3 linked regions of the Homo sapiens genome follow. The protein of the gene in region 2 interacts with the protein of the main gene of each other region in a pairwise test. Each region holds a gene or a part of one and is shown on either strand. Other genes may lie near its edges. The genes, in order: PIAS1, WFS1 and TRIM35.

Evidence for each region.
Region 1: the proteins of WFS1 (region 2) and PIAS1 interact in binary tests that used the Homo sapiens proteins (3 or more experiments, as listed by UniProt).
Region 3: the proteins of WFS1 (region 2) and TRIM35 interact in binary tests that used the Homo sapiens proteins (3 or more experiments, as listed by UniProt).

What each region holds. Positions count from the first base shown.
Region 1 is NC_000015.10:68,060,726-68,064,379, forward strand, and holds part of PIAS1 (E3 SUMO-protein ligase PIAS1), read left to right. Parts: intron 1-3,654. UniProt on the Homo sapiens protein: Functions as an E3-type small ubiquitin-like modifier (SUMO) ligase, stabilizing the interaction between UBE2I and the substrate, and as a SUMO-tethering factor. Catalyzes sumoylation of various proteins, such as CEBPB, MRE11, MTA1, PTK2 and PML.
Region 2 is NC_000004.12:6,286,755-6,290,408, forward strand, and holds part of WFS1 (wolframin), read left to right. Parts: intron 1-338; coding exon 339-421; intron 422-2,232; coding exon 2,233-2,377; intron 2,378-3,654. UniProt on the Homo sapiens protein: Participates in the regulation of cellular Ca(2+) homeostasis, at least partly, by modulating the filling state of the endoplasmic reticulum Ca(2+) store.
Region 3 is NC_000008.11:27,301,212-27,304,865, reverse strand, and holds part of TRIM35 (E3 ubiquitin-protein ligase TRIM35), read left to right. Parts: intron 1-22; exon of another isoform or gene 23-105; intron 106-3,654. UniProt on the Homo sapiens protein: E3 ubiquitin-protein ligase that participates in multiple biological processes including cell death, glucose metabolism, and in particular, the innate immune response.

The sequences.
Region 1 (3,654 bases), on a different chromosome or scaffold from region 2:
ATTTAAATTGGGAGGTAACATAGTTTCAAGGATCCACAATCTCTGCCTCCGGGGTTCAGGCAATTCTCCTGCCTCAGCCTCCCGAGTAGCTGGGATTACAGGCATGCGCCACTGCGCCCAGCTAATTTTTGTATTTTTAGTAGAGACAGGGTTTCACCATGTTGGCCAGGTTGGTCTCTATCTCTTGACCTCGTAATCTGCCCGCCTTGGCCTCCCAAAGTTCTGGGATTGTAGGCGTGAGCCACCGTGCCTGGCCCAGGATCTGGTTTTAGAAAGATAACATAGGCAATGAAAGCATTTTTATTTTTAGAAAAAACCTTTATGAGTTAAACCAATTAATAAATGCATATGTGAATTAAGAATGCTATTTGTGCAACATCTGAAAAGTAGTGCATGTAGAAGGAACTTGAAATTGATCGTACTCTAAATTTGATTCGTTCGACTTTGGTCTTCACCTAAATCTGTATTTATGTAACGTTTTATCATTAGGATTTCTTTGAAATAGGCAGTAGAGACAATTTTAAAGTACTTAGTTGTCTTTAACCATCAATTTCAGAAGTAGTATTAATTGCCACTGCACTTTTTGCTAGATGTTTATGACTATATTTCCCCTTCCATGTTAAAAATTGTGCAACTCCTGTTACTTTTGATTCCCTCTACTCTTGGTTTCAGTAGTGTCACATGAAAAGAAAATTCCCTAGAACCCTTCCTTCAGAGTTTTCTGGTAAGTCTTCATTCTTAGCTATGAACTTCTAAAATTCGTCAAAATGAAGAAACCACCTTTTTATTTTTCAGCTTTTCTTTAGATCAAGCAAACAAAACAAACATAAATCCTTTGAATATTAACTAATGATGGAGATATCAGTAACTCTCATAGGACTGTTGTAAACGTTCCTATTTTTGAAAACTTAATCTCTTTTTTACCTTTTTTGCTATTCACTGCTTTCAGTTTACCCGCTTTGGTTGCCGGGTTAATTTCACCAAAACACTCCTTTCATTCTGTCACTCCTATCTATAAAAACTTTGAATGGCTTTCTATCGAAAACTGGATAAAGACTTAGTTCTCAGTCTAGTATTCAAGATTTTCTATTGTCTGGCCCCATTCCACTTTGTGTGTGTGTTTTGTCTCTTCAGCTGTATAGCAAAAGCCCTTAACTTAAAGCCAGAGCTGTTAGTTTGCGTCTTTTTGTTGGCTGGTGTTCTGTTTGTACACCCCCCATTCTCCCATCCCTACCCTGTGGACACAATAGGTGTTTTTAATATACATGTGTCAGATGAACAAATTATGTTTAAGATTTGTTTCTGTCAGAGACTGGGGCCTGATACTCTTGTCTATAAGACAATCTAAATTGAAAATATTTTTAGGGTCATATCTTCGCTCTTTTTTCTTGCTGCTGCTTAGATGAACTTGAATAACATTAAATCCAGAATAATTTATCAAGGGCTGTTTTAGATTTACCTTTTACATTATTTTAAGTTATAGAGATAATAAGTGACTACACTTCTCATTGTAATGATCTAACAGTAAATAGGGTAAAAATGGAAAGACCTCATCATCTTCATTCTTAGAGGGAATCATTTTGGTGTATATCTGTGTATTCTTATTTGGGTGGGCAGGGGGAGGTGACAGCTTTATTGAGATAAAATTAACATATCCCATTACAGTTCACCTCGTTAAAGTGCACAGTCAGGTAGTTTTTGGTATATTCACAAAGTTGTGTAACCATTAACCACAATCAGTTCTAGAATATTTTTTCACCTCGAAAAGCAACCCTACATCCTTTTAGCATCATCCCCTTCCCAAACCTTACCTCACTCTTAGCCCTAGGCGACTGATAATCTATTTTGAGTCTCTGTAGACTTGCCTATTTTGGGCATTTAATATAAATGGAATAAAAATATGTCACTTTTTGTGTCTGGTCTTGTATTCATTTTTTTCTCTGCATGGGCATTTAAATGTGTATGTCTGTATAATATTTTTAATTTATTGTGTGTGTGTATGTCTAGATGAGAACAAAACTAGGCACATAGAAGGAACTTAAGTGAATGTACATGTACATAAATATCTTTTCTAAAACTGTGAGACCATACCATATGTAGCATCCTACAGTTTGCTTTTTTTTACAATAGATAGTGAAGATCTTTCCATGACATGTCCAGACAATGAGATGGTCTCATTCTTTTTAACAGTGTGTAATATTTCCTATGTATGTTTATAGAGATTTACCTCTTGAATTTATCAGTGTATATGGTTAAAAGTTCTTAACAACTTGTTTTGATGGTTTTGCTATACACTACTGGTTTTTTTAAAAAAATAATTGCCACATTTAATGTAACCTCTGTAGTATTAATGCTGGAGTTTCACTTAACAATAGGAATGAAAACATCACAGGTAAGGGTTGTATAGCTTGAGGAGAAATGGAATGCAGGGTCTTTATGCAGTTCTGGCAGTGCTCAGCCAAAGCAATTCATTTTGTATTTGGGTTTCTGAATGTGAGCAAGCCTGTTTTTAAAAAAGCTCATGGCATAGTGCTTAAAATAGAACTTAACATGCTATCTTGTGCTTTATGGTGAATTTTAAGACTTTTTCTTGCAGTCATGCAAGTCTAATCTTAAAGATTGGAAAGATTTCAGAGTAAATATTTTTTCTCATATGTTAAAATCATCATTCTGGTCTATGGGCTTCTGTAAGTTACCCAAGAAGGGGACTGAAGAGGCACAGAACTGGCTCAGAAACTGGCTTATAGTAGATTCTCAGTAATTGTTATTTATTAAAGAATTATTTATCACATTCTGTTATTTATTATATTTTTGGGTATCTGCTGTGTATGAGGTACCAGGTTATTGGTGATTTTAATATATTATCACATATGTGTGTATATTTATTTAAATATTTCTGTTATAGCGGAATGTTTACTAAAAATTATCTTTTTAAAAATTATACAAGTAATGCATCAGTTCTTACAGAGGTTTTCAAAGTCTATTTCTCAGGCCTCTGGTGGTTCCCCGAAGTTTTTCTGAGGGTTCTCCAGGTCAAAATGATTTTCCTAATAATAGGCATTATTTACGTGCTGACATTTGCAAAATCAGTGGTGGGTAAAACTGCCAGCACCTTGGCACAAATTAAGGCATTGGTACTAAATTGTACTAGTAGTTGTGTTCTTCATCACTGTGCACTTGGAATTAAAAAAAAAAATGCCAGTTAAACTTTATGTCCTTGATGAAGCAATAAAACTTACTAATTTTATTGTATCTCAATCCTTGAGTACATTTAAAAATATATTTTGTATGATGAAATGAAAAGTACCTGTAAAACACTTTTATTGAATATCAAATCTGATGGTTAACTCAAGGAAAAGAACTTGTGCAGTTGAGTTGTGAGCTTTTTAAATGGAATACCATTTTTACTTGAAAAAATGGCTGGCAAAGTATGGTTATACAGACTAGGGTATTTGGCATACATTTTCATGAAAATAAACAAAGTGTGCCTGTCACTACAGGGAAAACAACTGACAATATTTGTTACTAATGATAAAATTTAAGCTTTCAAATGAAAATAGAACTTTGGAAGACATGTATTTGCCACTGTGAGCTTGACAGTTTCCCAATACTTGACTTTTTTGATAAGATCAGTGTGATATTAATGAATGTGTT
Region 2 (3,654 bases):
CTAGAGCAGGCCTAGGCCAAGGGGTGTGATGGTGGGACTTGGCTCTGTGCTCGCCTCCTTCCCATGCCTCCCACCCCGAGCGCTTTGAGTTGCTGTTGAACCACCTCACCCGCATAGAGTTTGCTCATCTTGCTCTGGCGCTGCTTGTGACCGGAAGGCAAACAGTGGCTTTCTGGGCATCTTCCCTGTCTGTGTCTGTGTCTCTCTGTACTCCTGGCCTGGATTTGAAAGTGACAAGCAGCAGCAGATCTGAAGACCCTCATGCCTTGTCCCCTCCATCCTGACAAGTGACAAAGTCTGGCTTTGTGACATGTGTGTTTGTTTCTTCTGTGTTAAAGGGCCTACAAAGGGAGACATGGAAATCCCCTTTGAAGAAGTCCTGGAGAGGGCCAAGGCCGGGGACCCCAAGGCACAGACTGAGGTGAGGACTGCGGTGCCGGCAGGGACTTCGGGACGCGGCCCCCGGCACAACAGGCCTGGCCACGAGCTCCACAGCCCACAGAGAAGTGTCGGTGCCTGAGATCGGGGTCAGGAGCCAGCGTGGTGCACCCTACCCCACTTGAGCCCCATGTTGGTAGGGTGCCCATGTTCACTGTGCCAGTTTTCCTCCTGGCACTCCTCTGGGGAGCAGCGCTCATCCCCCTTTTGTCCAACTCACACCTCATCTTGGGCATCACCTCCTCCAGGATGACCTCCTGGCTTCCTGCAGCTGCCTGCTCAGTGCCACCCCTCAACATACACTGTGTATGCTGCCCACTCTTGTCTCCCTGACTGGCCTTTCACCTGGCTGTTAGCTGTGTGCACGGGGCCCTCAGAGCGGTGACCATTCACTTGGGCATCAGCCAAGGGCTGGGCTTTGTGCCAGTGCTGGGGACATGATGTGGCCCTCTCTTCATGGGTGACAGGTTAGTGGAAGAAGCAGACCCAAAAAACCCAAGTAGACAAGACACAGAAATACAGTGATTTTGAATTCTGGTGAGGGGAGAAGCCAGCAGAACGCTGAGACGGGAGGTGGCAGGGGGTCCTGTGTCCTCTGTGGAGGCAAGTTCTCACCACCTCACTCTGTCCCCTTGCACAGGGCTCAAGCAAGTGACCACAGTTATCCTGAGCAGTTTCCTGCCCCCTCTTCTCCCTAAAGAGGAGAAAAGCTTCCACGCGAAACCATAAATTAAGAATTTCTGGCTGGGAGCGGTGGCTCACGCCTGTAATCCCAGCACTTTGGGAGGCTGAGGCGGGTGGATCACCTGAGGTCAGGAGTTCGTGACCAGCCTGGCCAACATGATGAAACCGTGTCTCCACTACAAATAGAAAAATTAGCCAGACATGGTGGTGCATGCCTGTAATCCCAGCTACTTGGGAGGCTGAGACAGGAAAATCACTTGAACCCAGGAAGTGGAGGTTGCAGTGAGCCGAGATCGCACCACCACGCTCCCAACTGAGCAACAGAGCAAGACTCTGTCTCAAAAAAAAAAAAAAAAAAATTTCTTTCCTGACCTCACAGCCATATTGTACTTTAAAGTTCCTCCCACATCCTTTTGCCCAGGCATTTGGAGGCGGGGGGAGCATAGTAAGCCCTTTTATGGGCTCTCTGTGCCCTGGGCCTCACTTTTTCCATCTGTAGAATGAGAAGACTGGACCATTTCAGCAGGGATTCTTTTTGCAAAGGGCCAGATAGTGAATATTCTGGACTCTGCGCAATCTCTGCCGTGTTGCTCAGCTTTGCTGTGGAGCACGTAAAAGCAGCATGGACAACATGTAAATGAATGGTTATGGTTGTATTTCAATAAAACTTTATTTGCAAAAACAGGCAGTGGGCCAGTGCTAACCCTTGGTTAGCTGGCGTCTCTCCAGCCCTGGCTTTCTATGGTCCCCTGACTGTTTTGAGAGGTGTAAAGGACCCAGTCATGGTTCTGATTTCCATGCATTGATGGTGAGCCTTGGCAGGCAGGAGCAACTCAAGGAAGAGAACCTGTACCAGTACCAGTCGGAGCCCGTGTCTCCCTCGCCGTGTGGATGGGGTGGCCACACCTTCCTCACCGTGTTTTGAGGAGCGAGTGGCCGGAGGCTCAGTAGGGCCTAGCCTAGTGGACATGCCTGGTGTGACCCCATTTCTGCCCCTTCCTTCCTGGCCTGGGTGACAAAGGGAAGTGGGTGAAAGGAGGTGGGCTGGCAGGGAGCATGGGGTGGGAGAGGGTCGGAGAATCTGGAGGCTGACTGGTGTCTGGCTTGCAGGTGGGGAAGCACTACCTGCAGTTGGCCGGCGACACGGATGAAGAACTCAACAGCTGCACCGCTGTGGACTGGCTGGTCCTCGCCGCGAAGCAGGGCCGTCGCGAGGCTGTGAAGCTGCTTCGCCGGTGCTTGGCGGACAGAAGAGGTGGGTCTGTGTGAGGCTTAGAACAGCCTCTGGAGGGTTGAGCAGCTTGTAATGCTGCTTGCTAACTGAACAACTAAAATCTTACCAAACCTAACGCTGGTGATGCTGTTGGGAAATTTCAGTTTCTGTTTTGCTGGTGGCCTTCTCATTTTAGACACTGTTTCTGGACTTAACATGGGATATTTAACAGACCAAGCCATTTTCATTCTCTTTGGCTTGTGTTGGTATCTCCAAGTGGTAACTATACATCCTGCTTCCCTGCTGGGTTCTGATCCAAACTGAGACATCGATCCTGGGTTCAGCTGAGAGGCAGTTTCCCTGAGGCAAAGCTGGAGACTGTAATGTGGCCTGCAGTCAGAGTGGCCCATGCCCCTGAGCTGATGTCCGTCGAGTCTGGGCAGACCAGCTGAGGGGCTGTGGGCCCACACAGACCTGGACAAGCATGTTCACTTTGGGAGGAGGCAGGCTGACCCTTCATAGATAATCTCTTTCAAACAGAGAGGCAGGGGAGGAAAGGGACGCAGCTCAGGCCAGGGGTGGTGAGTTAGGACGTTGTCCTGCGCAAGGGAAGTGGCTGTCCCTGGTGCCGTGGGGCAGTGTGCTTCCTGAAGGTTCCACGCCTCAGGGAAAGATGAAAGTGGGTGTCACAAAGGTGTTTTTTCTAATGATACCTTTTTTTTCAGATTGTAAGAGTATTTTATGCTTATCATAGAAAACTTGGACTATGTAGAAAACATAAAGATACAAATTACTCATAACCTTGAAGCCCAGAAGCAACTCCCCATATTTTGGTGTATTTCCTTCTGTGTTTGTTGTTGTTGTTTTGAGATGGAGTCTCACTCTGTCGCCCAGGCTAGAGTGCAGGGGTGCGATCTCAAGTCACTGTAACCTCCACCTCCCTGGTTCAAGCAATTCTCCTGCCTCAGCCTTTTGAGTAGCTGAGATTACAGGCGTGCATTACCACACCTAGCTAATTTTTGTATTTTTAGCAGAGACAGGGTTTCATCAGGTTGGCCAGGCTGGTCACAAACTCCTGACCTCAGGGGATCCACCCTCCTTGGCCTCCCAAAGTGATGAGAGTACAGGCGTGAGCCACCATGCCCAGCTTGTATCATATTTTAAGAGTTACATTTATTATACAGAGTCTTCTCTTTGAAAATTAAACTGATGATTTTGAAAAACTAACAGTGGCATTGTTAGCCAGAATTTCTCACCAACCCAGCCTGCTGATTCCAGAGCAGTTGGAATGACCTGGAGGGGGCTCAGGCGGCCCACAC
Region 3 (3,654 bases), on a different chromosome or scaffold from region 2:
GCCTGATAGCCGAAGAGAGAAGGAACTTTTTACCAACTCACCAGTGGATAGTGACAAAGACAAGGCTCCAAACCAGCTCTCCTAACCTTCAGTCCAGGAGGCAAGGTATATAGCAGAAAAAACACAGGCATTCCATGTACTCATTGACTGGGCAGGTGGTTAACTGAACATCTACTTTGTGCAGGGACTTGGACATGCAGGGGACAAAACAAAGTCTCTCACCTTGCAGAGCAAGCATTCCTTCTGCAGAAGTGTACCGAGCACCACTATGCAAGGTAGAGAGGACCTGGAGGTTAAGACCTGCCCTCAGGAAAGAGAAGCTATTACCCTGGATAGTGAGTGCTGAGACAGAGGTGGCCAGGGTGCTGTGATGCCCTGGAATGGAACCTGAGCTGGCAAGATCGGGGGGCTTCCTGGAGGAAATGAGGGGTACTAGAGCCGAGTTTTCAAGGTGATGTTGGGTTAGTTGGGGGAAGCAGGTGGGAACCAGGCAGAGCAACAGTGTGTATCAAGTCTCACAAGACAGAAAACCTGGCTCAGGCCAGACAGAGCTGGTTTCACATGCAACTCTAGCACTTTGGTAAGTCCTTGCAAAGAGGCTATGAAGACCTTGTGCAATGAAATTCATTCTTTCCCTTGCCCCTACCTTCCTGCTTCCAGCTATACCACAGAGCACCTGTCCTGTTAATGAAAATTGTGGGTAACGTGATTTTGTAAAGTGCTTAAGATCTTCAATATGCAATTGAAATTTGTTGCTTAAGGAATCAACTTGTCATTTTTGGGAAATCATGTAGTCTATATGATCACATTCTGGATCCTTTAGTATGAATAAAAACCTATTTTGTGTGTGTTTATAACTAATCTTTAACGTAGGCTGGACGCGGTGGCTCATGCCTGTAATCCCAGCATTTTGGGATGCCGAGGCGGGCGGATCACCTGAGATCAGGAGTTCAAGACCAGCCTGGCCAACATGGTGAAACCCTGTCTCTACTAAAAATACAAAAATTAGTTGGGCATGGCGGCAGGCACTTGTAATCCTAGCTACTTGGGAGGCTGAGGCAAGAGAATTGCTTGAATCTGGGAGACAGAGGTTGCAGTGAGCCGAGATTGCGCCACTGCACTCTAGCCTGGACAAGAAGAATGAGACTCTATCTCAAAAAAGTAAAAAATATAAAATAAATAAATAAAAAATCTTAATGTTATAATGTGATGCTAACATCGAAGCTTGTTTGCTCTCCTGAGCTTGGGCTGGGGGATGCTCCAGATCTGTTGTGGGCCCCTGCTACTGCCCATCTCTGCTCATTCATGTGCTCCTTGGGCTACAGGCAGGCCCCTTGAGTGGTAGTTCTATTTGTAATCTAAGCATATTTAGGGTTAAAATTAATACCAAAAGCAAACAAAATAATATTGTTTAGATGCATTCAAATTCACACTTCTTACATGTCATATTTCCTAGGTGAACCACTAGATGCACAGAAGGGGAAAATGGAATAAAAAATGTGTAGTAAATTTTAAAAAAGGAAAGGAAGAAAAAGAAAAATAGAATAAGCAAGACAAATAGCTCAGAACAAGGTGGCAGATTTAAATGCAAACATATCGGTAATTATGTGTTAAATACTCCAGTTAAATGAAAATGTTGATCTGACTGGATAAGAAAACGAAACCTAATTCTGTGTTGCTTAATATAATTATCTCAGTGAGAAAACATTTGATAAAATTTACCATCTTTTTGTGTTTAAAAAAACAGGAAACTAGAAATGGAAGGAATTTCATTAGTTTGATTAAGTATATCTAGCAAAAAAACTTACAGCAAATATCACATTTAATGGCAAAACATTGAAAGCTTTCTTATTGAGATCAAGAAAAAGACAGGAATGCGCATTATGACCAACTCTATTCAGTTTTGTGTGGGATAGCCTTGTCAATGAAGTAAGCCAATAATTATAAATAAAAGATGTAAGGTTTGGAAAGAAGGGAAGCAAAACTGGCATGTGTAGATAATATGGTTGCATATTTTTGCACTGAGATTTCTATGTGTAGAAAATAAAGATTCTACAGTTAAATCATAAGTATTAATAAGTTTAGGTGAATGCTGAATCCAAAATCAAGATGCAAAACCAGTTGTATTTCTATGTATCACTAGCAAATAGAAAATAAAATATAGGCAGGGAGTTTTACACCTGTAATCCCAGCACTTTGGGAGGCTGAGGCAGGAGGATCGTTTGAGCCAAGGAGTTTCAGACCAGCTTGCACAACATAGTCCAGCCTGTCTCTACAAAAAGTTAAAACAAATTAGCCAGGTGTGGTGGTGCATGCTTGTAGTCCCAGCTACTTGGGAGGCTGAGGTGGTGGGAGGATCACTTGAGCACAGGAGGCTGCAGTGAGCTATGATTGTGCTACTACTGCACTGCAGCCTGGGTGACAGAGGGGGACCCTGTTTTGGGTTTTTTTAATTTAAAAATATGTTTACAATAATATAAAAAATAAGATAACTAGGAAGAAATTAATAAAAGATACGCAAAACTCTGATAGGGAAAAATATACTTCGTTGAGAGCTATCAAAGAACATTAAGTAACTGGTGTGATATATTATGTTCGTGGATTAGTAAAGTCAGTATTTAAGCCTTTCAGTTTTCCCCAAATTGATCTATAGAGACAATATTGTACTAATCTAAATCTCAACATGATTATTTTTATGCAACTTCACAGATTCTAAAATTTATATGACCCTCAAAGGGCCAAAAATTGCCAAGACATTCTTGAAGAGAAACCTATCAGAAATCCTCTCTTTTTTACAGCTATAGAAATTATGGCTGTGTGATGTTGGCACAAGGATAAACAGATGGGCCAGAGAAACAGATGGAGAGAACCAAAAAACAGATCTGTGTCTGATTTAAGACAGAGGTGGCTCTGCAGACCAGTGGGCAGTAATGGTCTTTTTAAATAATGGTGCTGAGACAATGAGCTACCTGGTCACACCATGTGCAAAAATAAACTCCAGGTATCCACATCAGACCTAAATGTGAAAGGAAAGCTATAAAGCTTTGAGAAAATACTACAGAGCTATACAATAATAATGCAAAGCTATAAAGCTTTGAGGAAATAATACGATTGTTTTTGTGATCTCAGTGTAGGGAGGTGTTTCTTAAAACTAGTATACTAATCCTAAAGGAAAAGACTAATAAATTTGGCCATATTTCAATTAAGAAAGATAAATGATGAAGTAGAAAATATTCATTACACCTCTAACTAATCAAGGACATACATTGTGTATATATAATAAATTCCCACAAACCAGTTAGGAAAATGGCAGGCAACGCAATGGAAAAATGGACAATACTTTACTGAGTACTTAAAAATAAACATTGAAGTGGTCAATAAACATTTTCTATTAACATTGCTCTTGCTGTAAAAATTGGTACCACTGCTTTGGAAAACAATTTGGCATTACGCAGTAAAGTGAAGACACATATGGTGGCCCAGCAGTTTTATCCCCAGGAATATATTATGAAGAAACGAGTTCCCATGTGTCCCCAGGAGACATGTACAAGAAGGTTACCTCCTCTGGGTCTAACTTGATCCTCTGTATAATGGGACTCACAGTGCTTAACCTTATAGGGAGAATTCGAATTAAATAATTGAATTAAATAGAAT